Homo sapiens: one gene and its partners. The protein of the gene in region 4 purifies or fractionates together with the protein of the main gene of each other region. This does not show direct contact. Each region holds a gene or a part of one and is shown on either strand. Other genes may lie near its edges.

Evidence for each region.
Region 1: the proteins of C1orf87 (region 4) and HEPACAM purify together in Homo sapiens (affinity purification with mass spectrometry; 2 studies listed by BioGRID and IntAct, with this or other methods). This does not show direct contact.
Region 2: the proteins of C1orf87 (region 4) and HERC1 purify together in Homo sapiens (affinity purification with mass spectrometry; 2 studies listed by BioGRID and IntAct, with this or other methods). This does not show direct contact.
Region 3: the proteins of C1orf87 (region 4) and PCNT purify together in Homo sapiens (affinity purification with mass spectrometry; 2 studies listed by BioGRID and IntAct, with this or other methods). This does not show direct contact.

The regions. Positions count from the first base shown.
Region 1 is NC_000011.10:124,919,029-124,926,066, forward strand, and holds the end of HEPACAM (hepatic and glial cell adhesion molecule isoform 1 precursor), read right to left. Parts: intron 6,042-7,038; coding exon 5,700-6,041; intron 4,983-5,699; coding exon 4,701-4,982; intron 4,406-4,700; coding exon 4,312-4,405; intron 3,791-4,311; coding exon 3,717-3,790; coding exon of another isoform or gene 3,561-3,716; intron 3,431-3,560; coding exon 3,360-3,430; intron 2,413-3,359; coding exon 2,110-2,412; 3' UTR 990-2,109; coding exon of another isoform or gene 723-989; 3' UTR 177-722; downstream 1-176. Other genes in the region: putative cancer susceptibility gene HEPN1 protein, read left to right, coding at 723-989. UniProt on the Homo sapiens protein: Involved in regulating cell motility and cell-matrix interactions. May inhibit cell growth through suppression of cell proliferation.
Region 2 is NC_000015.10:63,608,117-63,613,985, forward strand, and holds the end of HERC1 (probable E3 ubiquitin-protein ligase HERC1), read right to left. Parts: intron 4,441-5,869; coding exon 4,135-4,440; intron 1,151-4,134; coding exon 965-1,150; 3' UTR 502-964; downstream 1-501. UniProt on the Homo sapiens protein: Involved in membrane trafficking via some guanine nucleotide exchange factor (GEF) activity and its ability to bind clathrin. Acts as a GEF for Arf and Rab, by exchanging bound GDP for free GTP.
Region 3 is NC_000021.9:46,320,287-46,327,178, forward strand, and holds the start of PCNT (pericentrin), read left to right. Parts: upstream 1-3,869; 5' UTR 3,870-3,942; coding exon 3,943-3,996; intron 3,997-4,380; exon of another isoform or gene 4,381-4,924; intron 4,925-6,001; coding exon of another isoform or gene 6,002-6,090; coding exon 6,091-6,303; intron 6,304-6,892. Other genes in the region: uncharacterized protein C21orf58, read right to left, coding at 2,353-2,452; uncharacterized LOC128092249, read left to right, coding at 6,002-6,205. UniProt on the Homo sapiens protein: Integral component of the filamentous matrix of the centrosome involved in the initial establishment of organized microtubule arrays in both mitosis and meiosis. Plays a role, together with DISC1, in the microtubule network formation.
Region 4 is NC_000001.11:59,989,871-59,993,785, forward strand, and holds the end of C1orf87 (uncharacterized protein C1orf87), read right to left. Parts: intron 964-3,915; coding exon 803-963; 3' UTR 524-802; downstream 1-523.

The DNA of each region.
Region 1 (7,038 bases), on a different chromosome or scaffold from region 4:
AGCACAGGGCCTAGTCCATGGTAGGTAAACAAATGTTTGTCGAATAAATAAAAGAACACCTGAATAAGTAAATGAATGAACGGGTAAGTGATTTTGGAACGGACAATTTGGGGTTTGGAAAGAGGGTAAAGGAGGTGAAAGGAGAAGAAGAGAAATGACTGGTATATTTAAGCAGCTTGTTTTGTTACCCTTGTTTATGTGGAATAAAGTTGTCATTTCATTTCATCAAAAGTTTATTGAGCATCCAGTATGTGCTAGGCACTCTGCTGGATGCTAGTAATACAAAGATGAAGATGAAAACAACACAAAAACAAACCCCACTTCCTTACTTACCCCTCCCCACCCCCAATTTAAGGCAGATTTGGCTTAAGCCTGGCAAGCTGGCCCCTCAGGGATTCAGCACCAGGGTATGGCATGTTCTCATCTCACCCTAACCTTCACCTGTGCATCTCAAGGCTGACCAGCAGGTACTCCTTATCCAAGTCCTGCTGCCTCTTCCACCTTCTTGAGAAACTTTTCCCCTACATGCATTATCTCATTATGGATGAGGCACCTGGGAAGTTTAGGGGAGCTGCGAAGGCACACCTGCTCAAATGAGCCTGGGGAAGTGCCGAGGGACAGGGAGCTGAGACAGGCATGCTGTGGGGTTCAGGGCAGAGGGGGCAAACTAGAAATGTCAGTGCCTTTGGGGCTGAGACAAAACTTGACCTGGTGTGGAGGTGATGGGTAACTGGGGCCTTGGAATTGCTCCATGGGTTGATGGCGAATCAGAGCTGGAGTTTAGGAGACTAGGGATGCAAGGACCCTTGGAGGCATTAAGGAGGAGGGAATGGAATACACAGAGGGCCTCCTTCTCTTTCAGCTTTTTAATTGCCCTCTCTCCTCACACAGTAGATTACTGCCACTCCTATGAACTGTTCAATAGGCGGTGGCATGGGCATGTCCTGGCTACACAGCGGCCCAGCCTCTTTATTTTGATGTTAGTGTGATTAGGGAGTCTGCCCTTTTTCTGTGCCCTGGGACCTGAGCATGTGGGAGCAGGGCAGATGGGTGGCAGGAGGCCAGGGGTTGGATCATGTTCCCCCCAAATGCTGGGAAGCAATAAGCCTCCTCCTCCCCCCACCATTTCTCTGGAGATTAGGACTTATTCTCACAGCTGGAGGAAGCTCAACAACTTTCCTGAGGACAATGATTGTTTGAAAGGCTTGTTTTGTAAGGAAGCCAGGAGGAATATATGAGTTTGATGAGCTAAAACAGTTCCTCATTTGGTCTAGTTTTCGGGCCAGGGGAGTAAGTGAAATTCACTTCTCTATAAGAATAAGCCCATCCATCTCTTTTATTCATGAACAGAGACAGAAAGAGTGCTTGGCATGGCATGCCTCCGAGGGAGGCTGTGGGAGGAGGCCAAGCTGGCAGGCTCGGGTTCTTTGCCCTTGCTAGCGCCCAGGTCAGAGGGAAAAGGAATGTACTCGTACCCTTCCCTCACCACCTTGTAGGTCCCCAGGTACCAGGTGCCCAGGGAAGAAGGCCTTCACAATGATCCCCCCAGCTCAGAACAGCCCCTGCACACCCAGTAACCGGCATCTGGCTTCTCCTTAGCTTAGTGCAGCTGTGGATTCTGGGAAAGTGGCCTCTCTAATCTGAACTTGCAAAAAAAAAAAAAAAAAAAAAAAAAAAAAAAGTGCCCCAGCACTCAGGCATTTGTTCAGAGGGAAGGGTGGTGGGTGGGAAACAACACAGCTCCCTAGGAAGAGCACAGGATAGTCACGGGGGTTAGGTTACTGATGTTAGTTTCCATAAAACCCTTTTGGGTATTGGGCCAGAAATGTAATAATCTATGTGGTCCTAAGAGGGCACAACCTATACCAAGTGAGGACACAGCCAGTAAACCGGAAGCAAATGCGACCCGGTTTCACCATATCAACACTGCCGCCTCCGCGCACCCGCCTCCGTCTGCGCATGCTCATACACGTTCACACCCGAGACACCAGCGCCCCCCCGGGACCTCCCCTCGTCCCCAGCGCGCCGCGCCCGGGCTTCCCAGCCCCAGCTTTCCCCCGGGCCACTGGCCGCAGACCGCGGGCGCCTCTCAGGGGATCCCGAGGCGGCTCAGGCGCTGATCTCCACCGGGCCGGCCTCGTCTTGCTCGCGGATTATGTGCACGCCCGCAGTCCGCAGTGTGCGCGAGGCGCTGCGCGAGCGGCCGGGCGAGCTCGGGGCCCTGGGCGGCGACGAGTGTGTCCGGCCGGTGGCTGGGGAGCGCGCTGGGGAGCGCGGGTAGCGGCGGGCAGAGCGGATGGGCAGCCCCGGCGAGCGGCCGGGCACGGCGGGAGACACGGAGTAGCCGGGCGGGCCGGGCTCCGTCGCGCTTCGAGGCTCCGGGGCCGGGTTCTCCTCGGTCTCCGGGGAGTCCTGCAAGGACACGCGCCGCAGGGGTCAGGGGACAGTCAGCCCAGCCTGGGAGCGCGCCTGGTGTTAGAGCTTGCTGGAATTCCGAGGGGAGGGACCTAGTTTCCCTCTGCACGCCCACCTCCTGGAAGGCTGCAGACAGGTCTGGTTTTCCTGGCGATATTCCACACTGAGCATGGGGCCTCCTAGCACATAATAGGTGTTAAGTAAATGTTGAAATGCGATGATTTGAGTGCTTTTCCCCTTTACTCTCCTCTTTCCACCCGTCGTGGACAGCCTGGGACAGTTAGTTGTGGAATACTGGGGAAATCACCAGAACTGGTGTCCAAAGACCTAGGTTTGAAACCTAGATCTGCCACTCATTGACTTGTTTAATCCTGAGCAAGTCATTTAATCTCACAGCCTTGTTTTTTCTAATCTCTAAAATGTGCATGACACAAATATTTCACAGGGTTATTCTGAGTACTATAAAGCAGGGGTCCCCACCCCCAGGCCGAGGACTGGTACTGGTCCATAGCCTGTTAGGAAGGGAGCGGCAGAGCAGGAGGTGAGCGGTAGGCCAGAGAGCAAAGCTTCATATGTATTTACAGACATGCCCCATGGCTTGCATTATCGCCTGAGCTCCGCCTCCTGTCAGATTCGTGGCTGCATTCGATTCTCGATTCTCGTAGGAGCACACACCCTATTGTGAATTGAGCATGCGAGGGATCTAGGTTGCACGCTCTTTAAGAGAATCCAATGCCTGATGATCTGAAGTGGAACAGTTTCATCCTGAAACCACCCGCATCACCATCCATGGAAAAATTTTCTTCCTTGAAACCAGTCCCTGGTGCCAAAACCGTTGGGGACTGCTGCTATAAAGGGATAGGAATATAGTATGGCTCCCTAGCATCAGGCATGTGGGAGGGGATCACTGCATGTTTCTGGGCACCCAGTCCAGAGCCGCTCACCTTGTCCTTCAGGATATAGAGTGCCATGGGGTTCTTCCGTTCCTGCTCACCACTTCGAGGGAGGGTGTCTGCTGCACAGGGGAGAGAAGCGGGTGGCTGGCCCAGGTACAGACTCTCCCCACCAGCCGGCACCTACTCTCTGTGCTTCCCGAATGGCCCGCCACAACCTCCACCAACATATCTGAATATCCTGGCTCCTACCTTGGCCAAACCTTTCCCTCCTCTGCAGTCTTCGTGCAGTTGGTGGGGGAAGGGTCCCTGCAGAGCTGTTTTCCTTGTCGCCCAGTTCTGCCTTTTCCCAGCAGCCCACTGATCTGATTGTTGATGGGATGGGTGATTGGGTGGCTGGGAGCTCACCTTCTGGTTTCAGGCGGTCATCATTCTGATCCATGTATTCCAGGGAGTTTTGCTTTTCTAGCTTCTTCTGTTTCCTGTGAATCAATTCAGCCCCACTATGAGCCGAATTATTGAATGTGAGTAGAAGATCCAGTGGGGACACAGGGAGGGATCTGATGGCCATAAAAGAGGCCTTGTGACAGGAAGATGGGCTGGGTACAGTTCATGAGCTTTGGAAGGAATCACATCTAGGTTTGCACCTTGAGTCTGTCACTAGCGTTGTGACTGTGGGCAAGTCATTTAACCAATCCGAGTCTCAGTGTCATTATCTGTAAACTACAGATAATCATACTTAAAAGGTAGCAGGCTAACCACAGCCACAGTGCCTGGTCCCAAAAAAGGTGGTTGGCCAGTGAAAAAACCTATTGTTACTGGTGCTGGGGTTGTGGGGGCTTTGGAGCACAAGATGCTGGTGCATACACAATGGAAGAATGGATCTCTCGGAAAGAGATGCAAAACCCTGGGAGGAAAGGCATTTAAAGAGACTTAAGAAAATAATGGGGCTTAGGTTTGGGATGGATTGAAGGACTCAGGTGCTCAGGAGAGTTACCCAGACCTTTTGGAGGGTTTCCAGCAGGCACAGACTGTCACCAAGGTCACAAGGAGGAAGATGCCTCCTGTAGACAAGATGATGTAAAGGGAGCTTCTTCCTAGGGAGAGAGAGAAGCAGAGAGGCAGGAGGGACTTCAAAGGGGCAAGATGTGGTGAGCAGAACTTCCTGCCATGGATGGAAGAGAGGGGGAGCCCCAGGCTGCATGCCTGGCTGATGCTGGTGGTGGAGCTTGTACAGAACCCACTGGCTACCTGTTGGTGTCCTCCATGGATAGTTGGCCCATCTCTGTTCCCCTCCCCCCAGTGACATTTCTTTGGGATGTCCTCAGTCCCTCATGGTCACCTGCCTCTTGGGGCTTTGAGTACTAAAGGAAAGCCTGCGGGGAAACTCACTGTATACGGTGATCTTGACAGGCAGGCTGCGGCCCTGGCTGATGGGGTTCTCCACCATGCAGCTGTACAGGTCGTCATCCTCCATGAGCACGCGGGTGATGGTGAGCACCTTTTGGTCGGGGGACAGGAGCATTCTCGAGTCATTGAGGAGGGGCTTGCCATCCTTCAGCCAGGTGTAGCTGGGCTTGGTGCCATTCTCATGTGAGCAGTTCAAGGTGAAGGCCTCGCTGAGCTCCAGCACAGTGGTTGAAGCCACCAACACCTGTGGCCTCGAAATGGGCACTGAGCCGCAGGAATGGGGGAGCCTGTAAGTCATTGGCTAAGAAGTGTCTCCCTTCCCCTTTTTAGCTCCCTGCCTTCCAACACACCTTTAACACTACCTTCCAACTCAATCTGTGGGCTGAGAAGACTTCAGACATCCTAAGTCCAGTTCTTTCCCATCGCTTATTCATTCGTTTCACTGACTATTTATGGAGCACCAATTAGGCATGGCGGGTACAATGCTGAACAATGCAGACATGGTGTTGCCCTCATTCCCTCTTTCCAAATGCCTTGCCATGAACCCTGGGCTTTAATGTCTTAAACTGACCCAGCCAGGAAGATATTTCAGTTGGGCTAAGCCTAGGTCCAACTGTTTAGGTTCAAATCTTGGCTCTATCACTTCTAGCTGTGTGACCTTGGGCAAGTTATTCAACCTTTCAGTGGCTCACTTTCCTCATCTGCAAAATTAGGATAATGATATGAACTATCACCAGACTATTATAAGCATTAAATGAGTCAACATATGCAAAGCACTTAGAATAGTTTCTGGCACATGGCAATCACTCTACATGTTAGCTGTGCTGTGCCTGTCTGCCAACTTCTAATGTCCACTTGCCTCATTCTCAGCTCCCAAGTGCCTTTTGGGTTGGTTTTCCCTCAGTCTAGCTGGTGCGCTGGGCAGACCTTTCCCTAGTCCCACCTGCCAGTCTTGCCTCTTTCCCTGCCAGAGCGCTTTACCATCTACAGTAAGGTTGATGGTCTTCTCCCCAGTGAAGGTGTCGTCGGTGATGGAGATCTCGACCTCATAGGTGCCCTCATCGGCCAGCTGCAGGTCGCTGAGAAGCAGGGAGCCATTTTCAAAGAGTCGGATACGGTCTCGATAGTCAGGCCGCAGGGTGCCGATGACCTCTGTGCCAATGGACTGCACCACGGTCACTGGCTTGTCCCGCTTCAGCTGCCACTTCACTACAGGCCTGTCGCTGCTGGTACTGCTGTACTGCACAGAAAGCAGAGCCGACTTCCCCACGGTGCCATGGATCAGGCGCACGGGGCTGGTGATGTTCACCCCCTCCAGGGGGTCTGTGAACAGAGGCCCATGAGGAAGAGGGAAGCATCAGGCCCTGGGCTCCTTAGCCCACTCCCAACTTTAAGCCCTCTGATCTCCCAAAGCTTCGCCTCTCTGGCTCTTCACTCCCTGCCAATCCTGGCTTCTTAAGCCTGGGTGCTATCTCCTCCCCCACAGTAGCTCTGTGCACTTCTGCCCCTTTGTTCTCTCTCACAGCCATCTCATGGCCTTCAATGCTTTTTCCACCTAGCCCTCTGCCTCTCTGGCACTTTGTCTATTGCCTTTCTCTTGTGGCTCACCCACACCCTATGCGCTCCATTCATAAAAATATTTATTGAACATCTCCTATCTGCCAGACACTTTTCTATGTCTTTAGGATATAGCAATGAGCAAAGCCAACAAAAATCCCTACCCCTATGAAGCTTATAGGTCATTAGACCTCTGGGTGAATTTGTCAGATCTTCTTGATTGGGGATTGGGAGGGTGAGGAGATGGAGAAAGCATGGAACACAGATTCACAAAGAAAGGAGCGGGTCGTGAGACAGTGCCAGTAAAGGGAAAGTTTAGGGGCCTGAAGACCACTTTCTAGTTATACCGAGAGCCTCTTCCCGTTTTTTTTGCAGATGCATGTAGCATCTTACTAGGCTCACTCAGTGCAGAATAGTCCTGCAACTAGTAAGGTGGTTTTGGGAATTCACCCAAACTCCAGCCCAATCTGTACCCCTAGAAGAAGGATTTGCGATGGGTAGAACAAAGAGCTTAGAATCAGAAAAAGCTTTTTCATGCTGGGCTCTACCTCTTACTGGCTATGTGGATTTGGGTACTCATTCTTCTCATTTGTAAAATAAGGATAATAATAACAAGGCTGGGCGCGGTGGCTCACGCCTGTAATCGCAGCACTTTGGGAGGCCAAGATGGGCAGATCACCTGAGGTCAGGAGTTCGAGACCAGCCTGGCCAACATGGCAAAACCCCGTCTCTACTAAAAATAAAAAAAATTAGCCAGGCATTG
Region 2 (5,869 bases), on a different chromosome or scaffold from region 4:
GCCTTTCTGTAACACCTTCCACTTGGCTGCCCTCCCCACTGAGACATGTTGTAAACTACCCTGTTCTTTAATTCCATCACGTGCTCATTTTGTCTTTGTAGGTTCTTCATAGGAAGGGCCAGATGGCATTACTGTGGTCCTCTTCCTCCTTGTCTGGTAGAGTCGCCCTCCACATGAGGTAGCTGGGGCTGTCCAGAGAAGGATGCGTGGTACTGAGAGGGGCGGAGCAGCTGAGGGAACAAAGTCAGAGAGACCCAGGATGACAGAAGAACAATGGAAAATAGGGGCTTCCAACCCAGAGGGATCTCCTAGAACCACACGGTTCTCTGATACGTTATTTCCAAGTGAAGCCCACCCTCAATGTAAAGAAATGTTTCTGAATGGGTCAAAAAGCCATCAGAGCAAGACCAGCCTGGAAGCTCATTCTGTTCTGGGCTAATGTCTGCCTCGATGGTAACCCCTAGTCAGAAGCTCCGCAGGAAGCAATACCAAGAGCCACGCTCCAATTCCTGAATCTGCTTTATTTCTCTGCATAAGGAACCCTGAACAGGCAATTCAAATTAAAACAAAATAAATATATGAATATTCATGTAAAACTGTCCTTTCTAATGAACAATTATACACAATGTACAATTTCATGTTCACTGGGTGGATTTACAAAAATGTACCATTCCCAACTAAAAATGCACCAAAATGGTTTCATGCAAACTTATCAAAAGTGACCAAAAATATGGAGGGAAAAACCTGACTGAGAGCACTTCGTTTTTGTTGTTTTTGTACAATCACAGAAAAATAAAAACATCTAATTTCTTTGTTACATTTAGAGTAACTAAATGTGGCCATTGTTTATAATGTTGGTTTATGTTCTTATAACATCTATGTAGTTACCATAAAAGTATATCAACATCAAATCAGAAGTGAGCATTATTGAGGGAGAGAAGGGAGGGTGAGAGCACCCGCACGGTCAGTAGTCAGTGTCGGAGCCCTCGGCGTTGTCCACGTTTCTCGAGAGCATGTAGTTGTCCATGTCGATTGAGCGGCAGTTGTTGATGGCATAGCGCAGGCGCTCGGCCATGACCAGCTGGCTGGAGTACGGGGGCAGCCTCAGCTGGAAGAAGCAGGTCTGTGAGGTAGGCAGACTGTCGTAAGGCTGTGGAGAGAGACCCAGAGCCGTGACTGGGGACATCAGAGTGCCATAAGGGGGAGTGGGGCTGCCCATGACCTCTCCCTGCCTTCAAGATGGAATTAACATGGCCACATGGTTAAGTCAAGTGGACACAGAGACTGGGCCAGATAGAATGAGCTGAGGCCCTACTGCCCCGTGGCCCTCGAGGCTCTGGGTGAAGATGTTCCTTCTTGTCCTCACCTCCTCCAGTGCCTGTGTGTGTAAAGTGAGGAGAAGCTCTGACTGGCAGGATTGCTTGAGAGAATACACTACGCACAGCGCCTGGCACAGGATGAGAGTGTAGTAAGAGGGCACCTGTCCTTCATACCCATCCACCAAGAGGGTGCAGACTGGAAGCCAGCTGCAGGGATGCCCCCACAGAGCAGGTAGAATGGAAAGAACGACTGTGAGGTGCAGCTGGCCATGGGAGCCTCTTTGCCCCCTCTCCTCTCCCTGTCCTCATGTGCATTCTGCCTCCTTTGCAGGCGCCATGGCTGCCTCGCACAGCTCACATAAGGAAGGGGCAGTCAATTAAACTCCAGTCCATCCATTCAACTGACGGTGATGCATCATTTAAAATGATAATTATGATGACTGGCAGCAAAACAGAAAGGTGTTCAGGATACATTAGGAGGTTAAAGGCAGAAAAAATTCTAGATACATCATATAAAAATTTGTACAATTGAGGCAAAGACTATGAGGAATTTCACAAAGGTAAAAATAGCTACTACTGGAGAGACAGGATTATATACGTTCCCTATCCCTCCTTGCAAACATAACTATTTTCTAAACAATTTGTAATAATAGTAATGGCATTATAGTGTTTTTATAAATTTTTAAAACGTTTGCTTAAAAAAAAAAAAAAGAACCTGTCTTCTCTCACTCAACCTCCTCTTGAAATCAGCCCTCCTCCCCAGAGCCCACACCTAGGTAAGCCACATGTCCTGCTATGGGAGGTGGATGGCCCAGCAGCCCAAATGCACCAGAGCCAGTGATGACACAGCTCAACGCAGAAAAACTGAAAGCAGCAAGGAAGGGAGGTGCCACTAGGTGGCTCTGATGACCTAAATGTGAGTACTGTAGAAATGATCTAAAAGCCACAGAGGAACCGACCACGGTAGTCAGTTACTGATGCTGACAACCCTGAGACCGGAGATTAGTGGTGGATTAACTCCTAGAACGGCAGGAGTAGCCCAGGACAGATATAAGGCAAGGGTTGTTTCCAGAGCTGAGTAGAAATGAGCCATTTCCTCCTTCCTACTTCTCTCTGAAGCAACAAAACAGATTTACAACTTACAGTTCTTGGCAAGTCATGCAGAAAATTTATGGAAAGGCTCTTTTATAATCCTTCCTGCACGTGGCTTCTCCAGCAAGCCTAGCCCAGGAGCAGAGCAGCAGCCTGCAGCCTCAGGAGGCAGCACAGGGAGGAATAGCTTTGGCTACACCAGAAAGCCAGACACTTAAACTGGCAGGAAGGGCCTGTGTGTGAAGAGGCCCCACTTCCCTTACTGTTTTCTGAACAAACATCATGGGCCCTGCTCAGAGAACTGCCCAGCTCATGTGGGAGAGAGGGCTTGTGAAGAGTGGGGATGGAGACAGAGGGAGGAGAGGCACTCCTAACTGAATGCAGTAAGTTCTGGGTTTGAGGGCTGTACCCAGTGTTCAGGAGGTGGAGAGAAGGAGTCTGGCTAGGTCTGCCTTCAGCAATGGTAGGGGCACTCCTGGAAAGCATCTAGGAGGGGTTCTTGGAGGAGATGACTGGCATTGGGCTTATAGGATGAGTAAGTGCTTGCCAGAGATAGAAGGAAAGGGGTGTGAAGAAGGACTTACTAAAGCAGAGGGAACAGGTTACATAAAAGCACAGAATTTTAAAAACAGCCTGGTCTACTGGGGAGAAAGGCAAGCAGCCCATTATGACCAGAACATGAGAAGTATCAAGACGTCACATCAGAAAGTGGGGCAGAGGCCAGACTGTGGAAGTGTTTAAGGCAGCTAAGGTCATTGGCATTTATTTCGGAGTCAACAAAGGGGGTCTCTGAAAGGTCTAAAAGGAGGAGAGTGACATGGTCAGACAGGTGCTTAAGAAAGATGACTCTGGCAGCAGTGTGCTTTTCAGACTCTAAGCCCTCTTATTCCTAAGCCATCTGTCAAAATCACAGCTGGGCTGGGGCTCTGCAGCTGGGGCCTTTCATCAGATGGCAGAGATGCAGCCCTGCCTGCTCCACAAGGCACACAACACAAGTGGGCACAGAGGTTATCGTTGCTCCCCACATCTTTGGGTTCCTTCTGGGGCACACCCACCAGTTAATGGTTAATATTTTCATGAAAACAAACAAGGCCATGCCTCAGCACAGGAAGAGGCAGTATGATGATCCTTCTGCCAAGTTCAGCTTTAACTCAGGAAGATGCTGGAAGATTTAGGGAAGGTTGTTGGTTGTAGTATGCTCTCTTCATCCACTTAGGACTCTTCCCACTGAAGCTAAATGATATTTCTAAACAAATTTTACTGCTTGATTTTTTTCATTAATCTGGAAATTCTAAGTATTAATAAGCATGAATCGGCAGGCCTACTTGAGGGTCATAGTTTGTTTTCCCCAACATAAAAGCAACAAGGCGCAGAGGGCCAGGCGTGTTGGCTCACGCCTGTAATCCCAGCACTTTGGGAGGCCAACGTGACCAGATCACCTGAGGTCAGTAGTTCAAGACCAGCCTGGCCAACATGGTGAATCCCCGTCTCTACCAAAATATACAAAAAAATTAGCCAGGCGTGGTGGCACGCACCTGTAGTCCCAGCTACTGCGGAGGCTGAGGCAGGAGAACTGCTTGAAGCTAGGAAGCGGAGGTTGCAGTAAGCTAAAATCATGCCACTGCACTCCAGCCTGGGCCACAGAGTGAGACCCTGTCTCAACAAAAACAACAATGAAGCAATAAGGCAGACATTACAAAGGAAAAAAGAATAGCTTACTTACCCTATCAACCTTCATGATTTGAAATCTCTGAGAAATGTCAGCAGTGTTGGCTGGTAGTCGAGATCTTCCTGACACAAACCTCATGAAAAGCACCCGCTCCTCATTGGAGAACTCTTCCAGCGTGTGCCAGAACCACTGCACCAGCTGATGCTGCTCATCCACCTCACGGTACCGCACCACTTTCTTCAAGACTTCCACAGAGATCTCGGGCATCCCACACACCATCTGCTCCAGTTGTTTTGCTGTGAGGAGGGACAGCAGCGGCACAGGAACAATCCAGGACATCCCTTCTCGGACTGCAGCCACCTGCTCCCGGGAGAGGTTGCTCATTCAATGAGTGTGCGTGAACCTGGCACCCACCAAGGGCCCTGTGGGGCTAGGCGCCTCCTGATGCCTGCTCGTCCGCTCCCCAGACCCTCTACTTGTTTCTCAGACCGCCAGGCACGAGAGTCAGTCAAAAAGGCCCACCCTCCCTGCCTCTCAACCCTTGTTAGAGTGCCTCCCTGCTGTGGGATTCTTACACTCCTGGTTCCAGTTCAAGTCCAATTTAGGAGCCTGCCTTCCCTCTACCACAAAATCTCAGCCCACTGGGGCCTTCCCTGATGCCAGCCCCACTCACTCATATTCCTAATCATATGTGCCCATGTGCTGTCAAACTATGCATGTGTGGACACTTCATCTCATAAAGGTAAGAAGCTTTGGGGGCACTCAACTAGCTGCCTACTGTTTTTTAAATTTATATTTGTCTTTTGAAAATAATTATATCCTTTTTGTAAAAATTATTTGTGCTCATCGTAAAAAAAATCTGAAAAGTACAAAGAAGAAAGTAAAAATGGGAAGTCCTTCTTTAGGAAGGCAATAGAAGAGGCAATGAATTTAGTGAAGAGACTTGGGTTCTAACTCCCAGCTCTGCCAATTATTAACTCTCTTAATTTTTCCGTCTGAAAAAAGCAGATATTGCTGCTCTCATGTGGCTCTGATGAGAACTGTATATGAGTAACTACATGAAATTCTGTGTGACTGGGTAATTCTACCCTGCTCTGTTCTCTTAGCATCATAGTGCTGGGCACAGGCAAGTTGGGGAGTGCCAAGTAGGGTGCAACCAGGGGCTGCCTTGACAGCTTGTTTAGAAAAATGTCTCCTCCAATATTATACAGTAGTGCATACCCTACACACAGACTCACCACTGTTCAAGGTTTGTTTCATAAATACTTCTTTGCTCTTGGCCAACTCAAAACCATCTACCACCATTTAAAAAGTCTAAGAATCTGAATAGGGACCATACCTTAAGGAAGTGAGTAACTATGTGAGGTGATGGATATGTTAATTTGCTTCACTATAATAACCTTTTTACTATCTATATGCATATCCTATATTATCGTGTTGTACACCTTAAATATACATAATAAAATTTATTATATATATAAAAAAAAACTGGGCCAAGTACAATGGTTTGCCCTGTCATCCCAGCTACTTGGAAGGCTAAGGCAGGAGATCCCTTGAGCCCAACAGTTCAAAGCTGCAGTGAGTGCCACTGCACTCCAGCCTGGGTGACAGAGCAAGACCCTCTCTTAAAAAATAAAATAATAAAAAACTGGCACTAAGGTTGTCCCATAAGGATCAGAGATTGGCAGTAAAGGCAGTCTCTTCTGATAGTAAAGGTCAATACCCCACCAAAGTCTGCCAAACGAAAACAAAAACGAACAAGCTGTTATGCTTGGTGGAACACAAAACA
Region 3 (6,892 bases), on a different chromosome or scaffold from region 4:
GAGATGGGGTTTCACCATGTTGGCCAGACTGGTCTCGAACTCCTGACCTCAAGTGATCTGCCGTCTTGGCCTCCCAAAGTGCTAGGATTAGAGGTGTGAGCCATAGCACCTGGCCCCTGATGCCTTTTAAATTATAAGATAGGGCCAGGCAGGCGGAAGTTGCAGTGAGCCAAGGTGGCACCACTACTGCACTCCATCCTGGGCAACAAGAGTGTAACTCCACCTCAAAAAAAAAAAAAAAAAAAAAAAAAGGGTATCAGGCCAACAGGGACCAGATGTTTCCTCATCAGTAGATACTGCACCCACCCAGATAAAGACATAAACAAGACACTCTTACTATCAGTCCTTACCAGAGTACTCTATGGCCATGAAAAGAGCAGAACACCACCAGGTCAAAGTGGCCGTTTTACAGACAGTCTTGCTGTCACTTGTGAGAAGCCCTCCACATCTGCTGCTGCAGGCTCTGCCCACATCAGAGATGCTTCCTTGCCAGATTCTCCTTTTCGTTGAACTGGTTAACTTTTTTTCCTCTCCTCTTTCTCTTGATGTGGAATGTTTATAACATTTATGCAGTGGTCAAGTATACTATTATGTATGGTTTGTAATACTGACTGACTTAAGGAGAGACTTGAGCCTGTGTGCCCACAGCTGTGACTGCCAAGTGAATGGGAAGCACTAAGAATTGCCTCCTCGGGATCTCTAGTAGTATACATAACATGCTCCAGAGGGCATGGATTTGTCAGACTTTTTTTTTAAATAGGGTTTTTAAGAACAGTTTTAGATTTAGAGTAATTGAGAAGATAGTACATGGAGATCCCACATACCACATGTGTGGCTTCCCCTCTTATTAACATCTTACCTTAGTGTGCTACATATGTTATATATATATATATTTTTTTTGAGACAGAGTCTCGCTGCGACGCCCAGGCTAGAGTGCAATGGTGCAATCTTGGCTCACTGCAACCTCTGCTTCCCAGTTTCAAGCGATTCTTCTGCCTCAGCCTCTCGAGTAGCTGGGACTACAGGTACGTGCCATCATGCCCAGCTAATTTTTGAGTGAAAGCCAGTGCACCTGGCCCATTTGTTATGATTAATGAACCAATATTGAGACACAAGTAACTGAAGTCCACACTTTGACAGTTTCCTTAGGTTTGCCTCATGTCCCTAATGTGGTATCCATCAGAACACCCCATTACATTGAGTTATGTGTCTTTAGGCTCCTTCTCAGACTTTCCTCGTTTTTGATGACCTTGACAGTTTCGAAGAGTACTGGGCAGATATTTTGAAGAATGTCCCTCAATTAAAATGTGTCTATTATCTCCTGGTTAGACTGGGACTGCAGGTTACAGAAAGGAAGCATCTAGGGGTGAAGTGCCACTGTCACCCCATCACATCAGGGACACACACTGTCACCTCGACTATAACTGTGAGGCTGACCTGCGTCACTTGGCTGAGGTGGAGTCTGCCAGTTTTCTCCACAATAAAGTGGCTCTTTCCCTCCTTTTCTTTATTGCACTCTTTGGGAGGAAGTGGCTATGTGTGGTCTACACTTAAGGAGAGGGGAGTTACGTTTCCCTCCTTGAGGGTGAGTATCTACAAAATTTATCTGGGCAGCTTTTTTTTTTTTTTTTTTTTGAGTTAGGGTCTCAGTCTGTCACCCAGGTTGGAGTGCAGTGGTTGCCTGGCCTTGACAGCTTTTTAATAGTTTAAAATGAATTGAGGCTGGGCGAGGTTGCTCATGCCTGTAACTCCAGCACTTTGAGAGGCCAAGGCAGGTGGATCACTTGAGCCCAGGAGTTCAAGACCAGCCTGGGCAACACAGTGAGACCCTGTGTCTACTAAAAATACAAAAATTAGCTGGGCATGGTGGTGTGCCTGTAATTCCAGCTGCTCAGGAGGCTGACATGGAGAATCACCTGAGCCCGGGGAAGTTGAGGCTGCAATGAGCGGTGGTCTCACCACTGCACTCTAGCCTGTGTGACAGACTGAGACCCTGCCTATAAAAAAGAAAAGAAAAAAGAACTGAAATAAGACCCAAGTCCAACATTAGCAGAACCTCTCTAGGATGTCCACAGAAACGACTCTGGGGTTCTGAGGAACACAGTCTAGGCAAACCTGGGCACATCCCCTCAGTCCCACAGTTGTAAATGTATTGTAACACGTAACAGTTGTGAGATTCAGGCGCGGTCTGGGTCTCTGTTCCTGGAAAGTGTGATCCTGTGGGTGCAGCCCCTGCTCGCTTGGCTGTGTTGCCTGCCTGGCCCCTGCTCTAATGAGCCCACTGCCCAGAGTTTGCTCAAACCACCCAATTCCGAGTCTGGGAACCAGGAGACCGCTGGACACCCCGCTCACCACACAGAAGACTGTGGCCTGAGTCAGGAGAAGGAAGTTTCTGGCGGTCGAGCTTCCACGGCTTCCTGAGGGAGGTTGCAGGGAGCCGAGATCGCGCCATTGCGCTATAGCCTGGGCGTCGCAGCGAGACTGTCTCAAAAAAAGAAAAAAAATTCTGAGCGAGATTCCAGGGCTTCCTGAGGGCGCGTTTAAGTTGCAGTTGCTGAGGAGGCTGCAAGGTGAGCTTGCGTCAGCGAGGAGCCACTCCAGCACGCTCGGGAAGGGCATCGTTACTGCTGCAAACAAGCACACGGCCCTCCACGACGAACCTTTTGCAAGTGAAGGCGCACGAACAGGCCCGGAGGACTACAAAGAAACCCAGAAACCAGACTTGGACACATGAAATAAAGGGGTTAGCTGAAGGAATACTCCACAGTTAAGGACGGCCTGCGCGAGGTCACCGGCCCTGTCTTGGTTTTTTGCCACTTCGCTCCAGTTAGTTTCCCAAGTTCCACCTACGCGCGCGCCAGCTGAGAAAACGCCCACCCCGGCGGTCCCGCCACAGGTCACAGGCGGTGCGGACCCCGGGACTGTGTCCGGGCTTCGGTGTCCAGAGAGCTCCAAGACACCCAAACCTTCCGTGGTTTCCACCTCTGCAAGCTTATGTTCCGCTGAGCTCAAGCTGAGGGACGACGACCTCATGCGACGTCAGTTTCCCCCTGGGACCACGAACCCACGGCCCCATTTCTCTTCTGTCTACTAAAAACCTTTTCTTTTCTTTTTTTTTTGAGACCTAAGACATCAGTGAGACACACGAGCAGACACGGGCTCGGTCGGGAAAGGCGGGAGCTCCAAGCGGCGGGGCCTGCAGGTCCAGGCGGTTCGCGGGCTTTCTGACCGCATTCGGCCGAGTTCTTCTCTGAAGACCCAGGACCCCCGGCCGAGGGGGCGCATTCGGCGGGCTGGTGGCGTAGGATTTTGTTTCGGGTTCCCAGGGTCCCGGCAAGGGTGAGGGAGCCCTTGCGGATCCCCTGAGATCCACCTCAGCAGCCTCCTCCGTGGTAGGCCTCAACTTCCCGCGGCGGCCCACAGCCAACGACTAATGCCTGAGCGGGAGAAAACGGCCTGGCCCTGTCCGGGTGGTTGCTGAGCACCGTTCGGCGCCGCCCGCGCCTGCAGGGAGCCCGGCCCGCTGTCCTGGTGGACACAAAGCCCAGGGGCCGCCCGCGCGGGACCAGCAGCGCGAACTTTTTGCCGCTCGGCCAGCCTGGCAGGGGATTTTAAAATCGGCCAATCACAGCGGGCGCCAGGCCTCCGCTTTCCGCTTACTGGTCCTGCCGTAGGAGGCGGGTACGTGAGCGCACCAATCTGTGGCCGGCGAGCGTAAAGGGCGGGGCTCCGCCCAGGCTGCACCGCCCAGAGCGCGCGTGCGCGAGACCGGAAACGCAGCCCCCTGATTGGCGGCGCGTGTCGGGGGCGGGGCCGCGGCTGCGTGACAGTTGTCGCGGGGGGAGGGCGAGCCCAAGCGCGGGGGAGGGAGTGTAAATAGAGCGAAGGCTGCTCTGTGTCAGCCCCGTCACCGCCGGGCGGCCCGCGCGGAGTCTGAGGGAGATGGAAGTTGAGCAAGAGCAGCGGCGCAGAAAGGTGGAGGCCGGGAGGACGAAGGTAAACATTAGGGGCTTCTTCTCTAGCTGCTCTGGCGTGAAGTCCTAAGGGCGGCTCCGGTGCCCGCCACCGCCCCCTGCCAGGAGAGGACGCGGTCCGGCGGAAGCCGCCGCGGAGGTCTCGCTTTTTCCCGCCGGCTCCGCTGGAAGCCGCCTCCTGGCCGCCGCCATCTTGAATCCGCCGCTCTCCGCCAGGTCCCGCCCCCGCCGCGGCCACAGCCAATCAGCGGCCGGGACGCGCGGCGCCTCTCGGGCGGGCCGGGGCGGGGCTGCGCCTGCGTCGGGGGGGGTGGGGCGCGGGCTGGGCGCGGTGCACGCCGGGGCGGGGTGTGGCTGCAGGGCGGGGCTACAGGGGCGTGGCGTGGCTGCACGGAGGGGGTGGGGCGCGGCAGGCGCTGGACCCCAGGCTGGATCTTCCAGTGGCTCCCGCGTCCTCCGGGACCGGGTGGCCTGGGGCGGGCGGCCGGTATTCGGGTGGCTGCTTGGTCTAGGGCCAGTTTCCTGCGCGGCCGGGGCCGGGGGCGTGGCGCGGGTGGCCTGCAGCGCCTCCCCAGGGTGCGCCTTCGCCTCGTCCGTCGGAGATGCTTTCCCCGCGCGTTTCTCGCGGCGTTGCAGTCCTTACTGTGTGAAAGGCCCCCGCGGCGCTCCCGGCCGCCGTCTTCTTCCCGCGCCCTTGGGCTCGCGTCCTGCCCGTCCGGGCCTGGCGTACGCTGCCGGGAACCCACGCGGCGCTGGCGCCGGGCGCCTTCAAGGGACGCGCTCCCGTCTTTCTCCCGCCCCGGGTTTCTCCGTGAAAAAGCGCTCGGTTTGATGGCCACTGTCCTAGGTTTCGTGGGAATAAAGCGCGCAGAGCCCATGACTCGGGGGCAGGAGAAAGGGAGTCCCGAAAGCGCGAGGCGGAACCGCGGGAGCAGGCCGGCCTCTGCGAGGTGCGCGCCGCTCCCCCCCAGGATGTTCTGGCTGGGGTGCTGGGGAAGAGCGGGGCTCCCGGGCACGGCGGACAGGGGACGCGGGGCTAGGCCGGGGAAGGGCTGAGGCGGGCAGGAGGGGAAGGGGAGCCCGGAGCCTGCAGGGAGCTGCGAACAGGAGCAGAGCTCCCAGGAGGGTGGAGGGGGGAGGGAGGGACAAGACGCCGCCTGTAGGGCGACGCAGGCCGCAGACCAGGTCTGTGCTATATCCCGACATGGATAGGTGTGGTGGAGGAGGACATGAAAATAAACGACATGAGGTTGACTTTGAAGGAAATATTTCCTTGAGAGACCATTTTCTTGTGTAAATGGCCTTGTGTAATTTTTCTGGGTCCATGAGCTTGTGTACTTGTGTTATCATTTACACAAATGTGTGTTCCATGCGTTTGTTTTTGTGGCCACAGTTGTCTTTTGAGGGAACAGATGTCTCCCCGTGAAAGGCTGATGTGGGATCGATCGCATACCTCTTGAGTAAGACGTTAGCGGGAGATGAGGCTCGCACATAGTCTCAAACTCTCGGATTTGAGGACTGAGCAGAGCTAGGCTGTGCCTTCTGATGGGCGATGCTCTGTGGATGTCCCTGGTGCTTTGGTGAGCTGTGTCATGAAAAATAGAACATCTGATTCCATAAAGGAAGATGTGAGATTGACCTGGCTTAATTAATTTTTTGCTATTTCTGTATCTTGTCTCAGAATCTATGGCTAGGAAGTTTTGGCTGGGCTATATATTTCTTCAGTTGGGGGAAAATTGGGGCAAGAAGGGAGAGATTTAGCTTTTATATCATTTTAAAACTTAAATATGCCTTGATTAAGCTATCAATCTTTTATACAAATTTTTTTTAAAGTTTTATTTTTCTGTAAACTGCCAAGGGCTAGGAAAGCTATTCTGCCAATCAGCCGTATGGTTTTCTTTACCAGGCATAATTAGCAGTCCTCATTGTTAGACCCCTTGGATATAGATATTGATGAAGGCAGTGTTTGTGGAGAGCCATCTGTTGGCCAGGTGTGGCAGAGTAGACTGGGTCAGCCCTCGGGCCTCATGGTCCCCACCAGTCTGTTGACTTTGTGGTTCTGTTATTTTTTTCTCACTTACCTTTGCCTTTACTACTTATCTACATTTTTGCGCAGCTTGCTCACTTCCGACAGAGAAAAACAAAAGGTGACAGTTCGCATTCGGAGAAAAAGACGGCGAAGAGGAAGGGCTCGGCTGTCGATGCGTCTGTCCAGGAGGAGAGTCCGGTAACCAAGGAGGACAGCGCACTCTGTGGAGGAGGGGACATTTGCAAAAGCACATCATGTGACGACACCCCTGATGGGGCAGGAGGGGCCTTTGCAGCTCAGGTAGATTTGCTCAATGTTGTATTTGAACATTTCGCTTATCTTCTAGTGATTTCTAGTGTGATTTACTAAAGATGGTCTTTGGTCTGTTTTTGCCTTTCAAAAGTGAGGAAAGAGGGTGTTATTTTAGTTTATAAAAAGTGAGGGCCGGGTGCAGTGGCTTACGCCTGTAATCCCCGCACTTTGGGAGGCCGAGGCAGGCGGATCACCTGAGGTCAGGAGTTCCAGACCAGCCTGGCCAACATGGAGAAACCCTGTCTATACTAAAAATACAAAAATTAGCCGGACATCTGGCGCACACCTGTAATCCCAGCTACTCGGGAGGTTGAGGGAGGAGAATAGCTTCAACTTGTGAGGCAGAGGTTGCATTGAGCCGAGATCACGCCAATGCACTCCAGACTGGGTGACAGAGCGAGACTCTCTCTCAAAAAAAAAAAAACAGTGAGTAAATTTTTATGGTTTTATTCTTTTTATTTTATTTTTTATTTTTTTGAGATGGATTCTCGCTCTGTCTCCCAGGCTGGAGTGCAGTGGCGCGATCTCGGCTCACTGCAAGCTCCGCCTCCCGGGTTCATGCCATTCTCCTGCCTCA
Region 4 (3,915 bases):
ATACGTGTGTAACTGTGTGCTATGTGAGTGGTGCAAAGTCAGGGGGGATGTTAAGAACAGAAGAACTATGGGAGCTGATGGAAAGTTCCACCTGGTTTTCCTGTCCAGGCAGAGCAAAGGATGTTACCTATTCCCAAAACGCTTTGTCCCAAGGAGTCCTTCCTCAAAACTTCTATCTTGGACTTTTGGAAAATACCCCTGGAGACAGTGTAATGTTGTTTAGTTTTGTACTGCAGAAAATATTGGACTTGTTCAGAAAACCTCACTTGAAATGTTTCTTCTACTGCTTAAGATTAAGATAGTGTATTGGTAATACTTTTATTTTTCTTATGGTATGGAAATCCTTCCTAGAATAATGACCAGGAGAAGGGATGATTTACCTATCCAAAAATGATGTTCATAGGTCTACTAGGTTCCAGGCACTGTGGGGAAGTGGCAACATTTAATGTTTTTTTTACTATGTGGAATTGTGGGGTTTGAAACAACATAGTTTGATTAGCAATGTAGGAAAAAATCAAACATGTAATATTAATAATAAGTTTTATTAAAACAGAAGGAGATTCTAAGTAGCTGGGTTCTTGCCACATCAAAAGATAAAACTAGGTTTCCTCTGATCACTTTGAACTGCTTATGAGTGAGCATCATAGCCAGAAACTAAGTCCAAATCAAAAGCATCTACAATAGCTGCATCGGCCTCCACTCTGACAATGCCTCCGCCACTACACTTAGGCTGGGGAGAAACATGTGTCTGGGTAAAAAGGGAGATAAGGGAAACATCTGTTCTCACAATATGGGCTTGTTATCATAGCTCCTTTAAGTACCGCAGTGCTGGCTCCAAGAGCATATTTTCTCCCGAACGGAATCTGCGCAAGGCCTGGTCGATTTTCTGAGGGCTCAGGGACAGGTTGTAAATGAGATTGTAGTTGTGAATGAGGCGTCTGGCTCGTTCCTTCTCCAGAACTCCTGTGATTGGATTGGGTAGGAGGAAGGTTTTTTAAAGAGGATGGAGGGAAAACAGAGAAAACTATATATTAGCTTGAATGACTTCCAGGTAAAGACTAAATGCTAATACTTTGCAATTTTAAGCTTCTTAAAAATCAAGTGGCATATTAAAAAATATTTATAGCTGTGGGTATGCATCACAGATTTCAGGAAGAATCTGAGGGTGATTTCAGGGGAAAGAGAACAAGATGGGATCCAATAAGATCCATAGATAAATTCTAAAGCAATTTAGGCTTTTCTTTGTAACTTTAAAACTTGTAAGGCCAATTTTTGAAACACTGGGGGTGCCTAGCAAAAGTAACTTCTAATTGTCCTGAGTTCTTTTTATCTTGTTAAAGTCTCCAAACACATTCCTAAACATGCAGGGATTAAACAGCTTATTTTCAAAATGCATTTCTCTAAATGTATTTATAGATGTTCTTTGGTATCTGCAGGGATTAGGTCCATAATATTCCCCTCCCCAACAGTGATACCTACACCCATGGATGCTCAAGCCCCGATATAAAATGGAGTAGTATTTGCATGTAACCTATACACATTCTCCCATGTACTTTAAACCATCTCTAGATTACTTGTAACACCTAATACAATGCAATTGCAATGCAAATAGTTGTTATACTGTGTTTTAAAATTTGTACTTTTTTTTGTTGTCGTGTCATTATATTTTATTTCTATTTTTTAAAATATTTTTGATATGCAGTTGGTTGAATCTGTAGTTGCGGAATACAAAGATGCAGAGGACTGACTGTCCTGTGACTCCCTCCAGCTTGCTGTGCAATCACAGGTGAAGCATCTAACTTCTCATAGCTCAGAGTTTGAATCTGCGTAATAGAGGTGGTAATGTGTATGACTGCAGGATATGCTCTGGTACCCACACATTATATATGCCAATACCAATGTCAGTATGCTTTCCATGTTAAGATTGGATAGATTTTGATGGCTGTTGGGAGGAGTCGCAGTGTAGACCACGGCATCACTGAAGATCAATAACTCACTCATAAGCCCCTAATTGCAAATATCTATGTGTCAGATACTGTGCTTGGGAATACAGAAGATTTAGAGAATTTTTCTGCTACCTCTGGAAGTTCTCTGTCCCGTGGGGGAGAGAAGTTATTCAGAAAATTAACTGGGATACAACAATAATAATTAAACAATATTTAAATATAAAATTTACTATGTTCCAGGAACTGCTCCAAGCATTTCACCAATATTAACTAATTGAATCCTTACAATAACCCATTTCACAGAGGGCAAAACTAAAGCCTAGAGACTGCAAGTCTCTTGATTGCCTAAGGTTAACCACTACAGTACGTTATGGAATGAGGGAAAAGAGATTGCTTCAAGTAGGGGTCTATTTATTTATTTATTTATTTATTTATTTATTTATTTATTTTTTATTTTGAGACAGGGTCTTACTCTGTTGCCTAGGCTGGAGTACAGAGGCACGATCATGGCTCACTGTAGCCTTGATCTCCTGGGCTCAAGGGATCCTCCCACCTAAGCCACATGAGTAGCTGGGATTGCAGGTATGTGCCACCACTCTCAGCTAATATTTTTATTTTTTGTAGTGATGAAGTTTCACTATGTGCCCAGACTGGTCTGGAACTCCTGAGCTCAAGCAACCCTCCCCCTAATGCCTTTCAAAGTGCTGGGATTATAGGCATGTGCCACTGTGCCTGGCCTCTTTTACTCTCCTTCATATGTGCGAACTGTAAGAGTGATGGTGAAATTCCTTCCTAAAGAATCCAGAGGCAGTGCCTTGTCATTTTGCGGAAAGCCACTACTAGTCCATTAGAGTTGGGCAATGGTAGATACTTATCATCTCAGTTTAAGATACCAAATATTACTCATTTTTAAATGTGCAAGTACTATTGTGCATGGTGCCACCTTCTCAACTACTCTCTAATCGCTATTTTTAACAGTAGGCCACAATAGGTGGGGTCCTAATTTATTCTGTTCTATTCCAGTGTGTTCATTTTCTATTCTGTTCTGGTTTGTTCATTGCCTATTTATTGTCTGTCTCTCTTATTAGAACAGTGGTCCTTTCATTTATGTAAACCTCATTCTTTGAGTTGGCCAATTGCATCTTCGAAGTTTTCTGGATAGGATGGCTGCTCTCAGTCCTGTCTAGCTTTGCTTCCTCTGGCCATTTCTCCACACCCTGCCTCTGGAAATATAAGACATGGATTTGGAATAAGTTTATGACTGTAAGAAAAAAAATGAGTGAGGTGTGGTGGCATGCACCAGCTAAGGTGGGAGGATCATTTGAGCCTGGGAGGTCGAGGCTGCAGTGAGTTGTGATCATGCCATTGCATTCTAGCCCAGGCAACGGAGTGAGGCCCCTGTCTTAAATAAATAAATAAATACATAAATACATAAATACATAAATAAATGTCAAAAGAGGAAAGAAAGAGGGAAAGAAGGAAAAGAAAACAGAGGTAATTAAATTGTGTGAAAATCAATAAAATATTAAGTTCACACAGTATCCAGTACTAGTAATCACTCAATAATGTGAAATTTTACTATAGGATAATTATAATAATTATGTCATCAACATTATTTTAAAAATATATAAACAGTATATATGTAATTGCTTATTAAAATAGATAGCATTTAGTTTATATTTTAATTAAAAATTAAAAGTTATGTTAAAAAATACATCTAGGAATCACAGTAGTATTTTCTATCTTCTAAGCTTTACCATTGATAGAAGATGCCTAGAGTCAAACAAAAAGTCCACTGAATGAAATTTGTATCTGTCTAATTTACTCTGTCATTAGGGGATGCCCAGAACAGCTGCATAAAATAGCCCTTACAATCCATCTTAGTGTTGGAAAGCCTGTCTTTTCTAACCAGAACCAAAATAAAAAAATAATAAGAATCCTTTTTTTTTTTTTTTTTTTGAGATGGAGT